3 linked regions of the Homo sapiens genome follow. The protein of the gene in region 3 purifies or fractionates together with the protein of the main gene of each other region. This does not show direct contact. Each region holds a gene or a part of one and is shown on either strand. Other genes may lie near its edges.

Region 1 (7,754 bases), on a different chromosome or scaffold from region 3:
GTGAAGTGGTTCATTCAAATAAGAGTAGAACTAAATAAAAAACAAGAAAAAAGTTGTAAATGTTGATCATATGCATTAATGCTACACATGTAAGAAAAAAGACATAAAAATAAGTTTTTGGCTAAATAGCACCTTTATTTTCCCTAACAAATCTTAGTTCAATTCTGAAGCCTCTTATTTTTATCATAAAAGCTCAAAAATAAAAGCTTGGTAAGTACTCTAAATGCATTAAGATATCCATTTTTTCATGAAGATTTTTTTTAAATTGCTTACCTTAAGAGATCGATGAACTCTTTTTGATTTTAAATCCCAAATATTAACAGTGTTATTTAGGCCTCCGCTTACCAAATACATAGATGTAGAATTTAAATTGACACATGTCTGCTTTTGCTATTTAAAAAAAAAAAAAAAAGTTACCTTAATTTAACAGAGCCCAGAGCTGACTTTCAGGTCTCATCCAACACTTAGTAAGCATATGATAAATATTGGTTAAATTAAATACTATAAACATGCTAATCTTGTACTAAAGAGCCACTCTCTCATCGTCTTTCTTCCACATGGATCCAACAGCTTTTAAGGGGGTCAAAAATGCTTCAAGGAAATCAAATAGATTTGCATTCACTTCTGTGGACCGGTGACGACACAGGAAGCTTAGAAAACACTGGCAGTCCTGGTCTCCCATCAGGGCTTGTTTGCCCATCCTATCTCCTCTTGATAAAGCCTGCTCTTGTATTTCCACAGAATATCCTACATTAAAATCAATCCCCAGCTCAAAAATGCTAAAAATAGAAGAGACTTTAAAAGAATTTCCAGTGTACAGCCCTCATTTTACCGATGGGATAAGTTTTTTTTTAAAGAAGTCAAGATACTTGCCCTAAGTCTTCCAGCAAATCTCCGTTAAGGAGACCAAGTCTCAGACATCAGGTCATCAAAGCCTGACTTCAACTGTTCCCCATCTCTGTAAAGACACCATCCAGTTTCTCAAGATAAAAACCCAGAATAACCCTTGATTTCTTGTTCTCCCTCCCCTCCAATCTATCAGTAAGCTCTCTAAACTCCAACCCAAGAATGAATCCCACATGGGCTCCCCTTTATCTATAGCTACTACTAACACTAACCCAAACCTTACCAAACTACGACAGCAGCTTCCTAACTGGTTTCCCTGTTTCCACTCCTGCTCTCCTATATTCCATCCTTCATAAGTAGGGTGGACTTTAAAAATGTAAATCAGATCATGTCTCCTTCCATACCCAAATGACTATAAATCATGCTGCTATAAAGACACATGCACACGTATGTTTATTGCGGCATTACTCACAATAGCAAAGACTTGGAACCAACCCAAATGTCCAACAATGATAGACTGGATTAAGAAAATGTGGCACATATACACCATGGAATACTATGCAGCCATAAAAAATGATGAGTTCATGTCCTTTGTAGGGACATGGATGAAATTGGAAACCATCATTCTCAGTAAACTATCGCAAGAACAAAAAACCAAACACCGCATATTCTCACTCATAGGTGGGAATTGAACAATGAGATCACATGGACACAGGAAGGGGAATATCACACTCTGGGGACTGTGGTGGGGAGGGGGGAGGGGGGAGGGATAGCATTGGGAGATATACCTAATGCTAGATGACGAGTTAGTGGGTGCAGCGCACCAGCATGGCACATGTATACGTATGTAACTAACCTGCACAATGTGCACATGTACCCTAAAACTTAAAGTATAATTTAAAAATAATAATAATAATAATAATAATAATAATAAATCTTCAACGGCTTCCAATCACACCAAGAATAAACTCCAAACATTTACCTGGCTTTCAAAGTCCTATTATTTGGGCCCTACCTCATCTGTTACCATTTTCTTCCTCATCCACTAATTCTCCAGCCATACTGACCTTCCATTCCTTAAATATACAACCCTATATTTGCCTCAAGGCTTCTACACAGCTATTCTCCTTGCCTAGAAAGCTAAATTCACTGAACCCTGTTTGGAAGACTTTCTGGTCAACAGATATCAACTTAAGTGCCACCACACTTCAAGGGACCTCCATTGGCTACCTAATGTAACTTGCTATCACAATATCTTATTTTAGTTATCTGCATGATAACTTACCAATATCTGGGTATTTTTTGTTTACTAGTTTACTGCCTGTCCCCCGCCAGAATGTCAGTTTCACTAGCACAAGGCCCATATCCATGCTCCATCTTTATAGAATGGCTAAAATACAGATGTTGTCAAGTTCTTCTCAGTGAGTATCTTTGAGTGTCACCAATTTGGTGGTGCCATCAGTAACTATGCTATACAGAACAGTGTTGCATTTTTTTCCTAAGTAACCTTTAGATGCACTACGAAGTCACATTAGTTGGAACTTCCACAGTGCATCCTTGGATTCTTCAAATTCAAAGGAGACATTTCATGACTTCAAGAAAAGTTAAAAGGCAAGCTATGTAGGTTTAGGCAAATCATCTCACCTTTCTGAGCCTATGCTTCTGCATTTGAGAAACGAAAGGTGAAGACTAGATCTACTGTTCTTACTTTGAGAATCCATGCTTCTCAGAAATATCCTCTGCTCAAAAGAGATTCTTTAAAGGGTGCATATGATCCCCTTCCTCTAGCCCTTCCCCCATTGCACGTTCAAATACTATAAACATGCTAATCTTGTACTAAAGAGCCACTCTCTTACTGTCTTTCTTCCACATGGATCCAACGGCTTTTAAGGGGGTCAAAAATGCTTCAAGGAAATCAAATAGATTTGTGTTCACTTCTGTGGACCCCAGGGTTCCTTCTAGCTCTAAAATTTTGACCAAGAGTATCAACTAACATATAAAAATAGCAAGATGCACACAACATCAATGTTTCAGTATAGTTGCTGTAATTCTCCTGCAGATACCATTCTAGGAATTGACTTTAGTTGAGGGAGACTAAGAAGCTTTAGAATCTGGTTGTCACTGCAAATCAGGACAGTTTGCTAAGAACTATCAAAACAGCCTTTAAATAAAATAGAAAAAGATGGTGTCCATTGAAGATCAATATATTGGGACTCCAATCATCACAACAACTACAATTACTCTTAAGGGCTCAAAATAAAAATTATATTTAGAGCTGGCTAACCCTGTTGATAGGTCTTTTTTATGATAATGTATTATTAATGCAACTAATGAACTTAAATAATTAATGGAAATTGTGTGGTTATTACAGGAATCCTGAACTGCTCAAGGTGCAAGGCAAAGGTACATTCTACTTTAAAGAGGTGAAATACAAAATCAAAGAAAATAAATATGAACTTAAAGTTCTACTCTAAAATTTTAAAATCAGTAAGATCATAATTTATTTTCTCAAGTAGAAAAGGTCTAATGCCTCAAATAATACACGAGTAAGAGGACTTGGAAGTTACAAAAAGGTTATTAGCACATTAATATGTTTCTGTAAACATTACTAGTAAAAGCTAAAAAACCAATGTTTCCAAATATTTTCATAACTAAATTAAAATAGATTGAAAATTTGAACTCAACTAATCTTACTTTTATCCAACAGCATTATGATACAATTTGTTAACTATGGGAAAGAGGGCTAAGAATCATAGCAACTAATTTGGAATATTCACAAAACTCTTAGAATTATGTCACACTTGTAAATACCATCTGTTATTTTTATACTTTAAAAAAAAAGCTCCCAAATACTGATTCACTGATCCTAAGGCATAATGCATAACAGTAGTACATATATATAGTGGTAGAGTAGAAGTTGAAATTGTTTTGATGTTGACATTAACAAGTTTTTTGAACATCTTAGGATACAAAGATCCAAAGATGGTTAAGATGTTTTGCCTGCTCTTGAAGACTTCAGTCTGCCTTTATCGACCAGAGACATTCTATGCCTTGATTCTGCTTAAGTCAGGTTAAACAGAGTGCCTCAAACTCCATTTCTACTGTTAGCACATGTTCCCTCTGTCCCAGTCTCCAACATCTGTGGGTTAGAACTGAAGTTCAGGTCAATCCCACTGGATACCTTTAGGAGAGGATTGATAAAAATCATGAGTCCTCTTTAAATTAGTTGAGCTTTTATTCAGTTGTCCTGCTGTTTTCTTTCTAATTGGGCTACTTTACCTATCCCAGTGTGTAAAATTATGACAATTCATAATAATTTAAGATCTGCTAGAAAAACTTTGAAATTAAAAAAAAAAGCTATCAACTACCATATCTTTTTATTTAAATCTTATCTTATTTAAAAAAGAAATAGCTTTCAAAGAGTGTGTGACTAGAAATGAAGAAGCCAGTATTATCCTTAATCAGAGGGATTAACTTATAAAACAAAAGGATAGGCTGGGTGTGGTGGCTCATGCCTGTAATCCCAGCACTTTGGGAGGCTGAGGCGGGCGGATCATGAGGTCAGGAGTTCAAGACCAGCCTGGCCAACATGGTGAAACCCCGTCTCTACTAAAAATACAAAAATTAGCCAGGCGTGGTGGTGGGCACCTGTAATCCCTGCCACTTGAGAGGCTGAGGCAGGAGAATCGCTTGAACTGGGGAGGCGGAGGTTGCAGTGAGCTAAGATTGCACCATTGCACTCCAGCCTGGGCAACAGAGCGAGACTCCATCTCAAAAGAAAAAAAAAAAAGGATAAGGCAACAGTACGTAGTGAGAGCTTCATTTAAACGCCCTGGGACCTAAGCTCATTTTGACAAAGCCAACCTGTTTAAGGAGAGTATGGGGGAGGCTCAGACAGGCCCCTCAGTACAGGTGGACAGAATCTGAAGCAGAGAGCTACCATCAGCTGTGAGTCTGTTCCTGATGGTCCTGAGCCCAAGATCAGTAAAGCAGTGCTGTGTCATTAGAGTTTATATGCTCAGGTCAACCTAGTAACCTATGTGGGATATCGTCCTAAAATAGCAGCAACAGAGATCCTCTCCCACTGAGGGAAAATGGAGAAATGAAGTGCCTAGTCAACAAAATTCAAGTCTTCAATTGTTCCCCTATATTCAAAACTATTTTACCTAAAAATACTTTAGTAAGTACACATATCTCATTTTTAAGTGTTACTATATTATTTTGAGCTTAAGTTAAAAATAATGCTTTTAAAAACCTTTATATTTAGTCGCAAGCACCACAATAAGCAATTGCCAGTCAAGCAAAACTAAGATTTTTAAAAGTTTAAAAAAAAAAAAAATCACTTACCCCTTCAGCAAGCTCTAAAAGTGGAACAGGTTTACATTTGCAACTTGAGACAACTATTTTGTCGCCACTGGAAGATGCTGTTACTAAAAAGTTATCTAAATGAGGAGTTATGGAGCATCAAACAATCCATGAACATCTATAGCACTAGACTATTATAAGAATTGCGATTATAAAAGCTAACACACTAAGAAGACAAGCAATGAGTATAGCTTACAGAGTAGCTTTCAAAAATGGCTCACATTACTATTAATAATTACTAAGACTAATTCTCTTTGCTACTACTGCAGGGAAGAACTAGCCTTCTTTCTGGCTCTGCTATCACTCAAAAGCTATTTAACCCACGTGAAATACTACTCTGTTTTCAAAGAGTAGGCCAGAAGGGCTAATTTTATCCTTCAAGAATGAGAGCATGATAAAAGCAGCATCAGCAAATATCAATCAACCTTTTCATCTACAGAAACTGTTCAAGATATTTATTAACCTAGTGCTTGGTAACAATCTAAACTAGGAAGCAAACATCCACACTAGTCTCCTATTTTTCTATTTAAAAAAAAAAAAGGCCTGATATTTTCCCAGAACATGAATTTTTGTGATAGAATGTTTCAATCTTAAATTAAGAATGACTATTACAGTAACTTGCAAATATTTTATAAATATGTATGGTTAAATAGGAATTGTGTTATGAGTTTTAATTTTTAAATAAAATGTAATTTTATTTACCTTCTTTTACACGAATTGTAAATGGAACAATCAGTAAACACAAAACAGTAACTATTTTAAAACTAAAATGATTAAATACAATAATATAACTAAGAATAAGAGTCTGATTTTGAGAGCCATAACAAATTAAAATATCAGAAGTTTAAATCTGTGCTTTTTAGCAATTAAAATCTGTGAGTAAAAGCAATGGAGAAAGGTTAATTAGACACTCAGAATCCCTAACTGCATTAACTTTTGAATGTTCTGTATAACTTTCAGGTATTTTGTAAACAGAGCATAGACTGTAATTTTATTATGATACATGATGCAAATCAAATCATTCCTACCTAGATATTACCATAGCGAGAAAAACCATTTCCCTTTCCTTGACTTCTTCCTGTTTACCACTACTTTTCTCCTTAGAATATAGAAAAAAAAGGACTGAAACATAATGTGGGTGGGTAATCTAGTTCTTTTTTATTTCTCTTGTAGTTTTAGAAATCATGAGAAAGTGAGGAACGTAAGTTAAAGGACAAGAAACAAAAAACTAATCTCTCTGGTGTCTCACATTAACCCCATTCTTGGAATCTATACTATGTGGACCCCAAGTTGCTAAGGCTGGGAACTCCTTGTTCTTCAGTAATTAACCTCCATGGAAGTGATCAAAGCCTTATTAAGAATAAGACTGTATGAAGGCTTTCAGTGCACATCTGCTCATGCAAGAAAACTGTAAGACCAATTTCCAAAAGTCATACAACACTATCTCATAGCTACATCAGTTTTGTTGTTAGACTATTAAGTAGCACATCAGTAAATGCCAACTCCTAGTAAAACTTAAAACAAAAGTCAACCAAAAAATAATCTTACTACAAATTGCTACCTTTCTCTTATATAGTAAGAGGGAAAATTAAGCTCTAAACATAATGAAAATCTAAAAATAGAGAACAGCAACTTCATATACTTGTCGCTCTCTTTAAAATATTTTCCCTATTACACATCTGGAAAGTCCTTCAAAAATGTAGTCACTTCACCATGAGTTTGATTAACAGAGTACCAAAGTAATTTGTTTTACTGCAAAATCAAGGAATGATAAGGAGGTAAATTTAATTCAGTAAGAAAATTTGTCCTTCTTGTTATATACATGCAAGAATAGTAAGTCATATAAAACTTTTAATATTTTTGTTCCTGAACCAGTCACATTTTAAAGCTTTGATTTTTTTATCAGAAAGTAGAATACTTTGGTGTTGATAAAAATCAGATAAATGTTAAATCTTAATTTGTTAAGAAATAGCGTATGAGTTTCACAAAAGAAAATTTCTAACATACCAATTACATAAAACATTTTCACATAAAAGGTGATAGGAGCACTGTGGTCACAGCAGTGGTTCTCTACTGGGAGTGATTCAGGCAATTCTGGAAACGTTTTGGGTTGTCACAACTAGAGGCTATTGGTACCTAACGGGTGAAGACCAATAAACCTCCACGTGGTACAACATACAGGAAAGGTCCACAACAAATTTTCTGCCCCAAAAAGTCAATAGCACAGGGTTCAGAAACCCTAGTTTACAGTCTTCACTCCCTCATTTTATTTTATCCACATTGAGGAGCTCACCAAGACAGGGAAGGTGTCAATCAGAAACATAAAAAGCTTAGAAAAGTTCAATCTAGGTAACTTTACTATGTCTGTTTAGGAAATGTAATTTTCATCACACACACAGAGAGGAAGGAAGATATGGAGAGTACATTAGTAAGATGGAGATATTGGGCAATTTTTTATCTCCTCCCCAACTTGCTTCTGCCTTCAAGTTCTGTCTTTAATTTTCAGTTCAGATCCACAAATACCCAAATGTAGATGCAAAAAC
Region 2 (7,754 bases), on a different chromosome or scaffold from region 3:
TATGAAATGCTTCTTTGGCCCTTTAGATAGAGGTACCTTAACTGTAAACAACTGCAATGAGAGCCTTCTAGATGTGGACACTTATGCTGAATTGAAGATGTACATCCTTGTTTCTTAAAGGCATGGTAATTTCCTTTTTAACAATAACAGGTTTTTTAATGTATTGAGATTTGTTTTTAAATGCTTTAAAAATCAAAATTCATGTATACTACTATAAAAGAATAATTCTCCAAAGATCAAAGAAAAGCATTATATGATATTACACCATAGGTTTTATTAACGATAAATGTTTGCATTACTTTTAAAAGCTTAGCTCTTACTAAGCATTCTTTAACAAAAGCTAATAAGCAAGAAATCATTTGCCATACGGAAACTATATTCACAAACAAGACTTTAATCCAATATTGAAAGCTAAAGAATTAGAAAAAATACAAAACACTGCTATGAGTCAATTGAACTGCTATCATTGAATTTGCTGCATTTAGAATGACATAAACATACTGAACATAAAAACAATTTTATGGATTTATTCTATAAGACTAGCATTAAGAATGACATACAATTTGTGATTTCCTTTAAAAATAATTTTTTACAACAGAATCCATTTGAACAAAGGGTCTTTTTTTTTTCCCCTCATTTGAGGGGAAGACAATCTATGTTTCCCAAACAGATCCTCCTTTCATACTAAAATAGCAAACTGTGGCCTCGATCTCCTCTTCCCAGATGCTACTTATAGATGACTTTGCATAATAACTTAATTAGAATTACTTTTCTGGTAACAGTGTCACGGCCATAAATAATCAGTTTTTAAAAAACAAACATCAAGTGCAAATCTAGAAAACTTCCTTTAAAGAATTACCCAAACCCAGCACACATGCAGAATCATTATTAACAAGCTAAGCAATATGACTTTAAAACGTGTATATAATGATACACGTGCACTAAAGACCATCTTTTATAAAGTTTTAATAGTGTTGCCAAGTTAATAATTCTTTCAAGGCACTGGAGAATTACACAGATGGAGTTTCCAAAATATAACTGACAATTGCTTGAACTGTTAAAAAGCCCTGAGTCAGAACTTTCAATAACTTCCTGAAATTATAGATTGCAGACAAAATGGCACGTTTATTTTACTTTAAAAATTACAGGACCATTTTGCTTTTTGGAGGAAATAAGCTGGGTTTATGAAACAAATCATGCAGACTATACAGGAAAAGTAAAATATTCAGCATATGACCTTTCTTAGACATTTTGTACATGTCGATCACAACTTGTAGTTACAGATTTAGGCACCAAATTAATGTGACAAGTCACTTCTCCTGTACCTACTGCTTAAATTCTCAATGAAACAAAAATGTCAATTTTAACCTCAGGTTCCCATTTCCTCTTTACTCACAAATAAGAATAAATGCTGGAAAAAGTAATACTCTGACAGAAAAGGAGGTAGAAAATGCCAATGTAGCAATTTACAATTTTAATTCATCGGCTCTACTGTCTAGTTTACGTTTTTATACCAGAGTTTCACATACTACTAACCAGTAAATTGAGGCTCAATCTAAAGGATATTCCCCCTCACTGTAGTAAAGCAATGTACACGAGACAGCATTAAAGTTTCCTCAAATTTAATGTTTTAAAGAAGTACAACTATCATTATTAATACTGCTATAGTTATATATATGTTAAATTTCCTAGGCTATATATGACTATCAAGTAATATCAGTAAGCATTCCTATCATAATATTCAAGCAAATGAAGTAACGTTGCCTTTTTGAGGGAAAACATATTTTGAAACTTTTACAAGCAGACATAAAGACAGTTGACACTTCCAACAAGGCACACATAATTTATGAAAATCTATTATGTTCCCAATTGTACAAACTCAAAGCTAATCTAATTCTGATATTTAAAATGTGCCTCTCCCCTCTGGCTCAAAATGAAATAACAAACCCTTCCAATGAATAGACATTTAAAACCTACTCAATTTAATTGCTAACAATTCAGAGGAGAGGTGCACTGTCCCTCCCAAAAATTTTAAGAACTTAATGTTTACCATGACCTTAGATCTTGCAAACACAAACAACTAAAGAATTTAGGTGTTTCTTGATTTATATGGAGTCAAAATTCTATTCCACTGAGGAGAAAACAAAAAGGGGAGTTGTTTAATGGGTATGGAGTTTCAGTTTTGCAAGATGAAAAAGTTCTGGAGATCTGCTTCACAACAGTGTAAATGTACTTCACATGGCTGAACTGTATTCTTTAGAAACAGTTAATATGGTAAATTTTATGTTATGAGTTTTTCATCACAAAAAATACAAAAAACTATTCAAAAATTCAATTTTTTACACAAATTATTACTATAAAACATGGTAGACATTCTGATAGGATAAGTGCTTTTCCTTTTGGATTAAAAAAAGCAACCTGTATTAAAGCCTATAATTTGATGACATCTGTATGATCCTCTTTTTTTCTCTACACTCAAATGCTGACTTTCCTTTCCTATCTGTTGTAACCCCACTGTCCTGATCCTACTCTACCCCATCTCTAATTCTCTTAGTTCATGAATTTAACTAATTCTTAGTCCAAAAAGGGTCCAGAATTCAGAGTGGACAAACAGCAATTGGGCAACACATAGACAGTATGTTTCTACTATGTAAAAATGACCCAGCAAGTTTTGATATTTGAACCAGACACATCTTAAGCAGCATGCATTTCAATATGCTAAAATGCTCTTACAGGCTAACACCATAAAAATATAAATTTTAGAAATGTATTTCCAACATTAATTATCAATTAATTTTATGCTTCCATAGCTAGCTGGTCAATTTGCAATGTTTAAAGTTACAAATATCTTATGCATAATTTGACCAACTAAACATTTGTCTAATATATTCCTACACTAATACAAAATTATCTTTTCTTGAAAACCTTCTTGCTCCCAACAAAATTAAATATGTATATAGTATAAGCAGTAAGAACGTTAAATTACGTGAACAAATACCATTAGAACAGCACCATCTGGTATGTTGTATGTGTATGTTTTGAGTAACAACGCTAACAATCTTAGAAGAATAAAGGAGAAAATGGTAGGGTGAGGGATACAGAGAGGAAATCCAAACACTACTCAATGACAACTCTTCTGAAACGTTAGGAAATGTTATCAGGACCTTTGGATCTCTTCCTTTTAACTACAGATTCCTTAAAATACACAACTGCTGCACAATAAATTCTGAGTGTGCTAAGATGCCATTTTTCCACTGTTGTGTATCTAATCCCTAAAGCCCAATAAATACTTTTTTGAATGAATGCGTGTCAGTTTTTTTCTTTTTTATAAATGTTTCTAAGAAAAGTAAAAGCTCTTTTGAGGCACAAGATAAAGAGGTTTAGCTAATGAGCAGGGTAACGAACCTAACTGGAAAAGTACTGCTAAGGGACATATAATAAGAGGTAGCAGATTCAGAGAGTTGGAGGAAAGTCACTGAAATGATGAAGTTCTTAATCTTATTATCTCTCACAAACCCAAAATAAATTTAAAATAATTCTAAGTGATTGAAAACATGAATAAAGAAGTATTTTCTATTCATGGAACAAATTTCAAGGTGATACAAATACAGAAAACCCACAAGTACTAGCACTAAAATTATAATGACATTATTTCTATAATAAAAATTTATGTCATATTCTTATAAAGGAAATAATTAAACTAGTCTGGAAGATGCTATTACCTTTTAGGGATCTGTTTTAGCACTGCAGCTCAGAAAACAGAAAGGATTTGTTTAAGGAAAGTAGAGCTGGAGACCACACAATTCTCTGATTGGCCAAACTCTGCATGAGTCAGCCAGGTGCTCCCTCCTCACCAGGTGATCTAGTGGGAAGAGATGGGTAGCCCATGGCATGGAAGGAAAGGAAAAACCTGACATGCTGTTTTCATGTCTGCAACATGATAGTCTGTCTGTCTCTTTATGTGAACATCATCAGTCAGATGTTCTACCTTTTTATAACTTCAAAATAGTTTTAAAAACAGCGTCGGTGGCCCCTTATTAGATAACTGAGTGTACATGAATTTTCAAATTTGAAATCTATAAAAATTTTACTGTTCTAAATGATAGCAGTTACTCAGCTAAACACAGACATGGAATTGTTGAGACTACAAAACCAGCCAGCAAAGCTCCCCATTGCTTTCACCAGGACTTGCAAAGGCAGCAAGGATTAAACAGCCAGAAACAGTGTAAGAGGGCTAGAGACTTCATACTTTCAAATTTAGTTGGTGTTCTATAAAAACTGAAGTAAGAAAAGCTAGCCAGATTTAAAGGAGGGAAAAAAACTACAAAAGAGGATAACTATTTTTAGGAAAAAGCTTATCAACAGCATATAGTAGACACTATGTAAACACCTGATATAATCTAGCAGCAATGAATCCCCAAACATTTATGTGTATATTTACTCAGGAGACAATAAGATTACAAAGGAGATAAAAGGAGAAAAAAAATGATTAAATGCTCCAAAAATTTTGTTTGTTTTTAAAGTCTACAGGTAAGCAGACATTTCTATACATGTCCTGGTCACTCTTTCTAAAGTATTTATAATTAGGTTATTGACCATGTCTTGGATATTGTTGGCAGTTTAAATAATACCCTCATCCGTAGGTATACACAGAAAGACTGTTTTCTTTATAACAAAAAATACTATAAAGAAAGAGATAATGGAAATAAGGCCTATAATGAAGACAGAATCACTAACACTGTCAGAATTAACTGATACAGAGAAGAAAAGATTTTTTCTTGGAAAAGGCATTAATTTTGCAGATCACTGGGATACTATGTACATCTGCAAAGCTAAATAGAACCTCAGAGGTCCAAATAGGGCAATGTCATTTCACTGGTCAGATCAAGCCCAGATAAGTAATCACAGAAAACCGGAAGTACACTTTTCATAGATTTTTTTTAAAAACACTGGCTGAACAAAATAGTGTATAAATTAATGTAAGAAAGGCAACTGTTAGTGGCCAGTTAATAGATACTCGTTTTTTTTTTCTCTTCAGTTGCCCACTATTATTGCTTATTTTTCCTTTTCTTGTCTATCAGTCACCTTGAAACTGGTAATCTGATTCAAGTTAAACAATGTTCCTTTTGAATCTAGAAAACAAGAGAAATGCAAAGTCATTATTCCCTCATTCTATGCTTCCATTTACTCTAAGAATTCAGAAACAAACATGTGGGTAACTTCCTGTTATCTTAAAAAAAGAATCATCCCTTCGGTATTCCCTTAACTATCTGGAACTTGTACTGTCATTTTATAATTTACCATGTGACATAATTGTTTGACCTGCCTCTTTTATTTGATGCATGACTTCTCAGAGAACCTGTTATCAACTCACTGTGTAAAACCACGATGAAATGAAGGATAACTGATCACAAAGAATTATGTCTTTTGAGATCCAACAAATTTACAAATTATAAGAGAAAAATGCAATTTTTTAAAAAAGGATATCCTTAAAGGACTTTCCTCTTAGAAGCCAAAGGTAAATTATCCTATGAGTTACATGAATTTGATGTTTCAAATTTAAAACAAAAACAAAAAACACAATTTCCAACACCATTTTGTAGGGTTTTTTGTTCTGGTACATTTACAGCCCAATTATACTCTAGTAAAGAAACTATGATATTAGAAATTAACTCATCAGAACTTCCAACTAGATCAAAAGCCTATTAAGATCTCATGACTAGATACATTAGCTAACAAAATACACCATGTGTCTTAGTTAATACAAAAGAATCCTTCGTTCAATAGCCTTGCGACAGATAGGACATTCACTCATGCGGTCTCCACAGAGTTGACAGGTTCCGTGACCACAAAGGAAAATCATATTCTTCAGACGATCTAGACACACAGGGCACATTGTCTGTAATGTGAGATAACAAAGTAATAAATTAGACACTTTATATTTGGAAAGTGACAGACTGTTATATATCATTAATTTTCTTTAGTTGTTTTAGTCAAATAATATTTTGGTGGTTTTTAAAAACAATTTTTTAACATTTTTAAATAGTTAAAATGTCATCCCTATAAAATAAAATAGAAACACTGGTTGTACTATCAGGATAGTATGAAAGGTACTACATAAGATTAAAAACTATTAATATATAAAACACAGCCAGACACCCTGGCTCACACCTGTAATCCCAGCTACTCAAGAGGCTGAGGCGCGAGAATCACTTGAACGCGGGCAGCAGAGATTGCAGTAAGCCAAGATCGCGCCGCTGTGATAGAGGCAGGAGGCAGAGAAATTCTAGGCAGACAAGGGTGGGTCCCCAGTGAAACCCAACCTTTGAGCTGAAAAGCCTGAAACCCACAGGCCAAAGTGAGAACTTCTATTCCTGCTTGCCCACTCTCTCCCAATTGGTTCTTTCTTTCTTTTTTTTTGAGATGGAGTCTCACTCTGTCGCCAGGCTGGAGTGCAGTGGCGCAATCTCGGCTCACTGCAACCTCCGCCTCCTGGATTCAAGTGATTCTACTGCCTCAGCCTCCTGAGTAGCTGGGACTACAGGTGCGCACCACCACACCCAGCTAATTTTTTTGTATTTTTAGTAGAGATGGGGTTTCACCATGTTGGTCAGGATGGTCTTGATCTTCTGACCTCGTGATCTGCCCACCTCAGCCTCCCAAAGTGCTGGGATTACAGGCATGAGCCACCACGCCCAGCCCAACTGGTTCTTTCTAAATAATGTCTTTTTACCAATCGATTGTTGCCTTTTCCAAAACTACCCACAGCCCACCCTGCCCACTCCTCCCATGTTGTGCCTTTAAAGACTCCAGACCCAGGTAGTAGAGGGGAGAGAGGCAACTTGACTTCAAAGGGATGACTGGACTTCGGAGGAGAGATGGCTTAACTTCAGGGAAGAGATGGCCGGACTTCAGGGGAAGATTACCTACCCGTCCCACCCCCACTCCAGTTCCCCTCTCTGCTGAGAGCCATTTCCATCACTTAATAAAACTCTCTGCCTTCACCATCCTTCAAGTGTCCAGGTGACCTCATTCTTCTTGAACACTGGACAAGAGCTCGGGACACACCGAGTGTGGGTACCCAAAATAAGGCTGTTACACTGGCCCTTTGCCCTCACTGGCGGAGGGCAGCTACCCCACACTATGAGGCAAGGGGCCAACTGAGCTGATAACACACCGCTGTCCGTGGACGGCAGAACTAAGAGAGCACTCTAACATGCCCTCAGGGGCTTTGGAGTCGCAGGCACCCCCACCTGGGTGCCGCTGCATGGATCCTGCAATTGCTCGTTCATGTGCTCCCTCCCGCAAACAGTTGAGCACAGTGGCCAAGTAAGCAGCGCACCTCTGTCGCAAGTATGACAAAGGGGTTGAGAAAAATCCTGCATCAACTGCTCTCCAGCCTGGGCGACAGAGCAAGGACTCTGTCTCAAAACAAACAAACAAAAAAACCTATATAAACCAAAACGTAATAGGAAATGGATGAAAATAGCTCCATTCAGTCTAACTGAAATTCCCTGAATCTAGGTACTCAGCTGCTCTTGCATAAAAAGAAGGCAATGTATCATGCAATACATGGTGCAGGGTGGGGAGCAGTGCTGAGAAGTAGCTGAGAACACTTGTCAGGCACTATGCTTAGATAGGATACAATCTCAGTCCTGGTATCATTCCCACTTGGAAAATGAGGAAAACGAGGCTCAGCGGGATTGAAAACCTTCCTCAAAGCAAGCCCTAGAGTGAACCAACTCAGGGCCCCA
Region 3 (7,754 bases):
CTATGTTGTTTATACGTCACTAAAATGAGCCTTTAGTTAGACAAGTTAAATAACAACAAGAAAAAAATCTATCATAGAATCTTAGGTTTTACAGGTGAAGCAGAAATCTAATTGTATTATATAAAATTTTCCTATCTGAATAATTAATTCATTACAGTTCAACATTATACATGCTCTTTTAACAATTTTATTAGTAGTATATTTTATCTTCCCTCAATGGACCAAGAATGATATGCCATTTTCATTTCAATCACAGGAAATACGTAGTAAGTAAAAAACCTACCTCTTATTGTTAAATTAGTGCTACTCAATACATTTTTTAAACTTAATATGGACAGTAATTATAATCTGCAAAATGAAATCTACTACCCACACACTATATACTACTGTGAAAGGGAAATAATATCTCAGGACCCCAAACTCAACTATGTCACATGAGAGTCACTATGACTCTCATTAACAATTCTCTTAATACTACCTCTCAGCCTGCGTCTAGATTGTTCTCTTTCTATATATTCCTTTGACTTTTTCATCAGATTCTGAAGACTCATTACATAGGGATTTCGAGTAACTGAAATGGAAAATCACATGTCAAAGGAAAAAGTAAAGCTTAGGAACTGAGTCACACAAAAACTGCCTTCCTTTTATTCCTAAACAGATAGCTGCAAAATAGAAGGCCACCTATCTACCCAGGTAGACTCTCTTGCAAATTGCTCACAAGGAAATTCCTCGTAGGCCCCAAAATCTTTACACCAACCCAGAGTTCTGCTGAATTTCACTCTGACAAGATACGGACAAAGACCAAAGATGACTAGAAATCATCCCTTTGGAGACAAATGTATATTTGACTTCTTCCTCTACTCTGCTTACTTTATCCTATGTAAAATGCAGATTTATTGAGCTTGAGATGAATGCATAACTGACTGTTCCTCTACCCCCACCTTTCTCATGCGACTTGTGGATTCAGTGAGTGCTAATCAAAGCCTCACAAAAATGTGATCGCTTATCTCATTACCTACCCTCCTTTTTTTTTCTTTCCTCTTTCCCCTCCTGCTGTTCTCTCCCCTTTATACACTGAAGTCCTCAAAACCTCTTCTGGAAAAGCATAAGCCACAGATTCTACTGTAACTTTTGTCTCTTTTTCCTTGGCACATCCTCAACCTTGGCAAAACAAACCTCTAAATCGATTGAGACTTGCCTCAGTCATTTTCTTCAGTTTACACTACCAACAGAGAAATGAACCCTTAAGGTTCATTATACACGTGTCATCGATACGAATTAAACAGACAAACCACAAACTCCTAAGATTATGAAAAAACAAAAAGATGTTACCAGCAGAACACTGCTATATGTTGTAGAAATTATTCGTTCAATCTAATTCATTTGTTTTTCTTTTTAGTACAAAATGATCCACATGTCAGAACAAATTGTTTATACAAATCTAAAAATAACTGCACAAGGTGTAGATGTGTTGTTTAAATAGTTTTTAGACATAGGATGCATCTAAACAATTCAATGTTATCTAAACTGCATTTTGTGTATCTAAGAGTTTTCACCAAAAAAAAATTGGAGGCAGTTATTTACTTAAGCAAAGAATGAGAATAAGGTCATTTAGTCAATAGTCTAATTAGTTTGGGGTAAACAATAATACCCAATTCTGTCATTTTGTCACTGAGAATTCAATGTTTTTAGAGTCATAAGATGCAAACAATAAGCAATTATATTCAGTGTATGGTTCTATTGTGTAAATATCCTCTGATTCAAGTACTGGGCATTACTAACAAGCAAGTACATTCTCTTTGGAGTAACTGAAATGGAAAATCACAAATTATGAAGCTTCTCAAACGTAACAGTAAAGTACATTAGTAATTAGTTAAGTGCAAATATATTTCAGAAAAATTATCATCAACGCTTATCTTATGATTTCTTTATTATAACTGAAACAGCTAAAATCACACACCTGAACATTGTCAAGAATCTCCTGGACACGAGTCAGTAAAGCTTTCTTCCTGTTAACCTGCTTTCTTGCTTCTACATCAAGTGCTTTCTGCTTTTCTTGTTGCATTTCCTTTCTTTTCTCAATGTTAAGCTGCAAAACATCATAAAAATGTAATTATTTCCCACGATAAAAATATCATAAAATCGGGAAGTTGTGAATCAGAAAGATTAAAAACATGTGCAACAGGCAAAACTAATGTATAGTGAAAGAAATCAGAACAATGGTCTGGGTACTGAGTGGGATGGGGCATTAGAGATCTTTCCATGGTGAAGAAAATCCTGTGTGGGTGTGAGTTATACATGTGTATGCCATATATCAAAACTCATGGAACTTTAACACTTAAGATTTGTGCATTTTGCTATGTGTAAATTATTTTCAGTTAAAAGGTTAAAAAGAAAAAAGTTTGTTCACTAATCAAATGTTCTAAAATGACAGAAATAAAATTAAGGCCCTTTTGGCCACTGCTGAGTTTTTTATTACTTCACTTGAATATTGACTTGAATATTACTTCACATTCAGTATCCTTTTTTTTTTTTTTTTGAGATGGAGTCTTGCTCTGTCACCTAGGCTGGAGTGCAGTGGTGCGATCTCGGCTCACTGCAACCTCCGCCTCCTGGGTTCAAGCGATTCTCCTGCCTCAGCCTCCGGAGTAGATGGGCTTACAGGCGCGTGCCACCACGCCCAGCTAATTTTTGTATTTTTAGTAGAGATGGGGTTTCACCATGTTGGTCAGGCTGGTCTCGAACTCCTGACTTTGTGATCTGCCCACCTCGGCCTCCCAAAGTGCTGGGATTACAGGCGCGAGCCACCGCGCCTGGCCCATCTTCAGTATCTTATTTCACTGGATCAACTGGATTCTACAACTTTTAATTTTCTAACCAGTGCACAATTTAACTCTTTGCTGCCTCAAAAAATGTCCAAAGGTTTAATGATAAAATAAACAGATAATATATTATTTGCCTACAAAAGCAGAATACATCTTTTCTTTCACCTCACTCTACCTTCTGATAAAAATATAATGTACCTAAAAAATGGAAGGCTTCTAAGCATTGTATCTCTTTATAATGGATTTCAATCTTAATTATTAAGTCCTGGGAAATTAAATCACTGTTAACAGTCAAGACTTATCGTAGACTTACACAAATAGAAAATATATCATTAAAAAATTATTTCAAAAGTTGCAATATTCACCTATCAAATACAACATAAAAGTGTGGATTAGGTCCATAAACATCACATTTTGCTTATAAATAAATAACAGACGGAGTCATAGACCCTACACAACAAGCCTCAGACATTTTGGTCCACATTAAATCAAGCAATGTGTTATCAAATAGCTGATAAATATGTTGTTTTAAAACTTTTTCCTAATTGCATGGTACCAAAGAATGATTATACAATTTACTTGCTAATCAAAAGGAGAAAATGTGTACTTTAAAGAGCCATCTGGCAGTCACTACTGTAAGCAAGTGTTCAAACTAAACATCACTAATAGAGGGCAACTAAACATTATGTAACTTCTGATTTAATTTAGTATGAAGTGCAGGGCATCATCTCCAAAGAATTCCTTTTTTTTTTGAGATGGAGTCTCAGGTTGGAGTACAGTGGTGCGATCCCGATCCCTCCTGGGTTCAAGCGATTCTCCTGCCTCGGCCTAACGCACAGCTGGGATTACAGGCACCCACCATCATGCCTAGCTAATTTTTATATTTTTAGTAGACAAGGGGTTTCGCCATGTTGGCCAGGCTGGTCTCGAACTCCTGACCTCAAGTGATACACCCATCTCGGGCTCCCAAAGTGCTGGGATTACATTTTTTTTTTTTGAGAGAGGGTCTCACTCTGTTGCCCAGGCTGTTGTGCAGTGGCTCGATCTCGGCTCACTACCTTTGCCTACTGGGTTCAGTGGATCTTGGCTCACTGCAACCTTCGCCTCCTGGGTTCAAGGGATCCTCCTGCCTCAGCCTCCCACATAGCTGGGATTACAGGCATCCACCACCACGCCCAGCTAATTTTTGTATTTTTAGTAGAGACGGGGTTTCGTCATGTTGGCCAGGCTGGTCTCAGCCTCCCAAAGTGCTGGGATTACAGGCATGAGCCACCCCGCCCAGCCCTATCTTCAAAGAATTCCAAAAATCTTTAACCTGTTTATCAAACTTCACTTCCAGTTCATAGGAACTACAGGGACTAGAGAAACAAGTTAAATAACACTATTAGGAAACAATGGGACAAATCCAAGATCTAAGGAATTCTACAAGACAATAGCTCTGGTCTCTTTAAAAATTCAGTATCATAGTTTTGTTATTTTTTTAAAGACAGTATCTCACTCTGTCACCCAGGTTGGAGTGCAGTGGCATGATCAGGGTTCACCGCAGCCTCAGCCTCCCGGGCTCAGGTGATCCTCCCACCTCAGCCTCTAGAGCAGCTGAGACTCCTGGTGCGCGCCACCACACCCAGCTCTTTTTTGTATTTTTTGTAGGGATGAGATTTCACCACGTTGCCCTGACTGGTCTCAAACTCTGGGGATCAAGCAATGCAATCCACCCACCTCAGCCTCCCAAAGTGCTGGGATTATAGGCGTGAGGCACCATGCTCAACCAATAAAAAAAACTGTTTTTAAGACGTACAGTAGCTATTTTAGATTAAAATAAAGAAACATAACAAGCAAATACTAATTGTGAACTTTGGATCCAGATTGGGGGAATAAAGTTATAAAAGGCATTTTGAGCACAAATGGAAAAATTTAAATATGAACAGAATTATTAGATATTATTAAAAATTATTAGTTTTCTTAAGATGTGATAATGGTATTGGGGCTTTACATAGGAGAATGTCCTTATTTTTAAGAGATGTACACCAAAATATTTAGGGGAGCAGTGTCAGGTCTCCGTGGTTTTCAAATAGCTAGGCAATTTTTAAAAATGTCATATGTACACACACACATAGATGTATATAAAAATCACAAACACAATAAAGCAAAGATGACAACAATGTTAAAAATTATTTAATCTAATGGTAAATCTATGGGTGGTCACTGCACTATCCTTTCAACTTTGCTGTATGTTTGAAAGTTTCATTACAAAAAGTTGGCAGTTAGCTCTGGTGTCTTTAAAAATTCAATTCAATTAATTAAAATTAATCTCTTAACTCCTGTTATACCAAAAAATAAATTTAAAGCTCACTTTTTTCTAATATTAGTTTGTGATTTAAAATAAAGTCATATGCATTTTTAAAATATCCAATTAGTATCAAAGGGTGTATGATGAAGTGTCTTCCCTATTATCCTATATTCTCTCACCACTCCCCAGAAAAGGAATAGCCATCCTTTGAAAAACCCAAATGGTTAACTTATATTGGGTACCTCTTATGATCCAGGTGGTATTCTAACCATTTTATATCTACGAATTCATTTAATCTTCAAAATAGCCTTATGAGGTAGGCACTATTTTATCCCCATTTAACAAATAAGAAAATGGACCACAAGTTTACACAGCAAGTAAGTAGCAAAGCAATGATTTGGACCCAGGCCAGAAGGCTCCACAGCCTAGACTTTTTTTTTCCTTCTTTTGGGATAGGGTCTTGCTCTGTTAGCCCAGGCTGGAGTTTTTTTCCTTCTTTTGGGATAGGGTCTTTCTCTGTAGTCCAGGCAATGATGCAATCCTGACTCACTGCAGCCTGCAACTCCTAGGTTCAAGCGATCCTTCCGCCTTAGCCTTTGAAGAGCTGGGACTACAGGCACATGTCACTGCGCCAGGCTAATTTTTTAACATGTTTTTATAGAGATGAGGTCTCACTATGTTGACCAGGCTAGTCTTGAATTCCTGGTCTCAAGCAATCCTCTTCCTTCCGGTCTCTCAAAGCATTGGGACTATAGGTGTGAGCCACTGTGCCTGGCCCAGAGTCTGGACCTCTAATCATGACTCTATACTGCCCCTGACAGCATGCTGCACACGGTGTTTTACACTAGATCATTGAGATCCTTCCATGCCTCAACATTTACATCTGCCTTACTGTAATGGTATGTATGAGAGTTTATAAAATAGACCATAGTTAAACTACTCCACTACTGATGGACATTTAGGTGGTTCGTCAACCTTTGCTATTTTAAACAATGCTAATGTAACTTTGTACTTATTTCTTTGGGCTCACATATAATTGTAGGATATACCCAAAAATGGAACTGCTGACCCAAAGGCTATGTATGCTTTTAAATTCTACCAAACTGCTCATCTAGAAATAAAATAAACTGATTCTCTTAGCAAAAGTGCATTAAAAGTGCATTTTCTCCACAATCTAAGGAACACAAAGTTCTATTAGGTCTTGGCCAATCTATAATAGTAAGTAAAAAATGCTAATTCATTTGTATTTCTCTAATTCTGAATGAGGGCATCTCTTCAAATGTTTATAAGCCTTTCTTTTGTTTTTCCACGAACTGTTTTAGTTGTTCACTACAGAAAAAAACTATTTAAAAACAAAGCAAGTTTACCAGTGGAGAAAGGATAGCCACTCCATGAAAGCGAATAAGTGAGATACTTTCAGACTGAGCAGGGAGAAAGCTCTCTGTGGATAGTGATGCTTCTTGTATTCTGGCAAGACTTTTTTCACAGAACTTCTCATACTCCTCCATCTTCCCACAGTCACACTACAAGAGAGAAAAATGTTATTTTTAATGTACTGGGAAAAACAGATCTTAATTATTTGGCAGATTTTGTAGAGCATGAGAGAGTCCCTATAATTCACAATTCCTATAACTGGTCCTCCCAGAATTGTCTTACTGATCAGGAGCTAATTCTTGGGTATGGTAATTCACCTCAAGAACCTGTCCAATTAAGATTTACTTTATATATTAAATATTTCTGAATATTATTGCATGTAAATCAATCTTTAAATGGGATTAATTTAGCTAAGAATTCAGTAAAACCTTCTTAAAGGAAACAAAGTTCTGTAAATCTTTACTAACTTCACATTGTAAAACAGGATATTATATTTTCTTTAACAGGACTTATCTACACAAGAAAAACTATATCATACAAAGGTACAAACACTGTAGTAAAAAAGCCTACTTAAATCAAAGAATATTTACTTTTAAAAATTTTCTATTTTGAAGTTCAGAGGTTACTCTCATATCTTTTTTTTTTTTTTTAAAGAGACAAGGTCTCACTATGTTGCCCAAACTGGATTCCAGTGACTATTCACAGGTTCAGTCACAGTGCACTATAGTCTCAAACTCTGAGACTCAAGCAATCCTCCTGCCTCAATTTGCCTATCTTAACACTATACTTGGACTGCATGAGCACCAGCCAACTCAGTCAGAGGTAAAAAAGAGCAAATCGATTGGCTCTGATATTAATTATATTTTATTGTTGAAAATTGGAACCATCACCAAACTACTTAAAACAATCCCAGTAATTTCACAGTTTCTGGGAAATTGTGATTATGAAAATACAAGGTAACCAGGAGGGATTAGGCATCATATTCATTCATTTAGCAAACAGTAAATGTTGATTGCTTATTTGCACAGCATTATGTGTGGCACTGTTTCCTTTAAATAAGCAAGGGAAAATAAAAAGACATTATCAGAATCATAACCAGCAAGGGTATGAACTATGGAAACAGAAAATAGAATACAATCATGTTCCTTTATGTCTTCATTTTAAAATAATTAGCTTCTTAACAAAAAAAGAGAGGGCAGGGAAATTCAATTCATGATGTGGGATATGCAAAGATGAAATAGGATATGTCCTCGGTAGGCCTCAAA

The links.
Region 1: the proteins of CCP110 (region 3) and NEDD1 purify together in Homo sapiens (affinity purification with mass spectrometry; 2 studies listed by BioGRID and IntAct, with this or other methods). This does not show direct contact.
Region 2: the proteins of CCP110 (region 3) and MIB1 purify together in Homo sapiens (affinity purification with western blotting; 2 studies listed by BioGRID and IntAct, with this or other methods). This does not show direct contact.

What each region holds. Positions count from the first base shown.
Region 1 is NC_000012.12:96,910,257-96,918,010, reverse strand, and holds part of NEDD1 (protein NEDD1), read right to left. Parts: intron 5,289-7,754; coding exon 5,194-5,288; intron 391-5,193; coding exon 274-390; intron 1-273. UniProt on the Homo sapiens protein: Required for mitosis progression. Promotes the nucleation of microtubules from the spindle.
Region 2 is NC_000018.10:21,862,671-21,870,424, reverse strand, and holds part of MIB1 (E3 ubiquitin-protein ligase MIB1), read right to left. Parts: intron 5,900-7,754; coding exon 5,759-5,899; 3' UTR 1-5,758. UniProt on the Homo sapiens protein: E3 ubiquitin-protein ligase that mediates ubiquitination of Delta receptors, which act as ligands of Notch proteins.
Region 3 is NC_000016.10:19,526,751-19,534,504, reverse strand, and holds part of CCP110 (centriolar coiled-coil protein of 110 kDa), read right to left. Parts: intron 6,639-7,754; 5' UTR 6,624-6,638; coding exon 6,483-6,623; intron 2,090-6,482; coding exon 1,961-2,089; intron 1-1,960.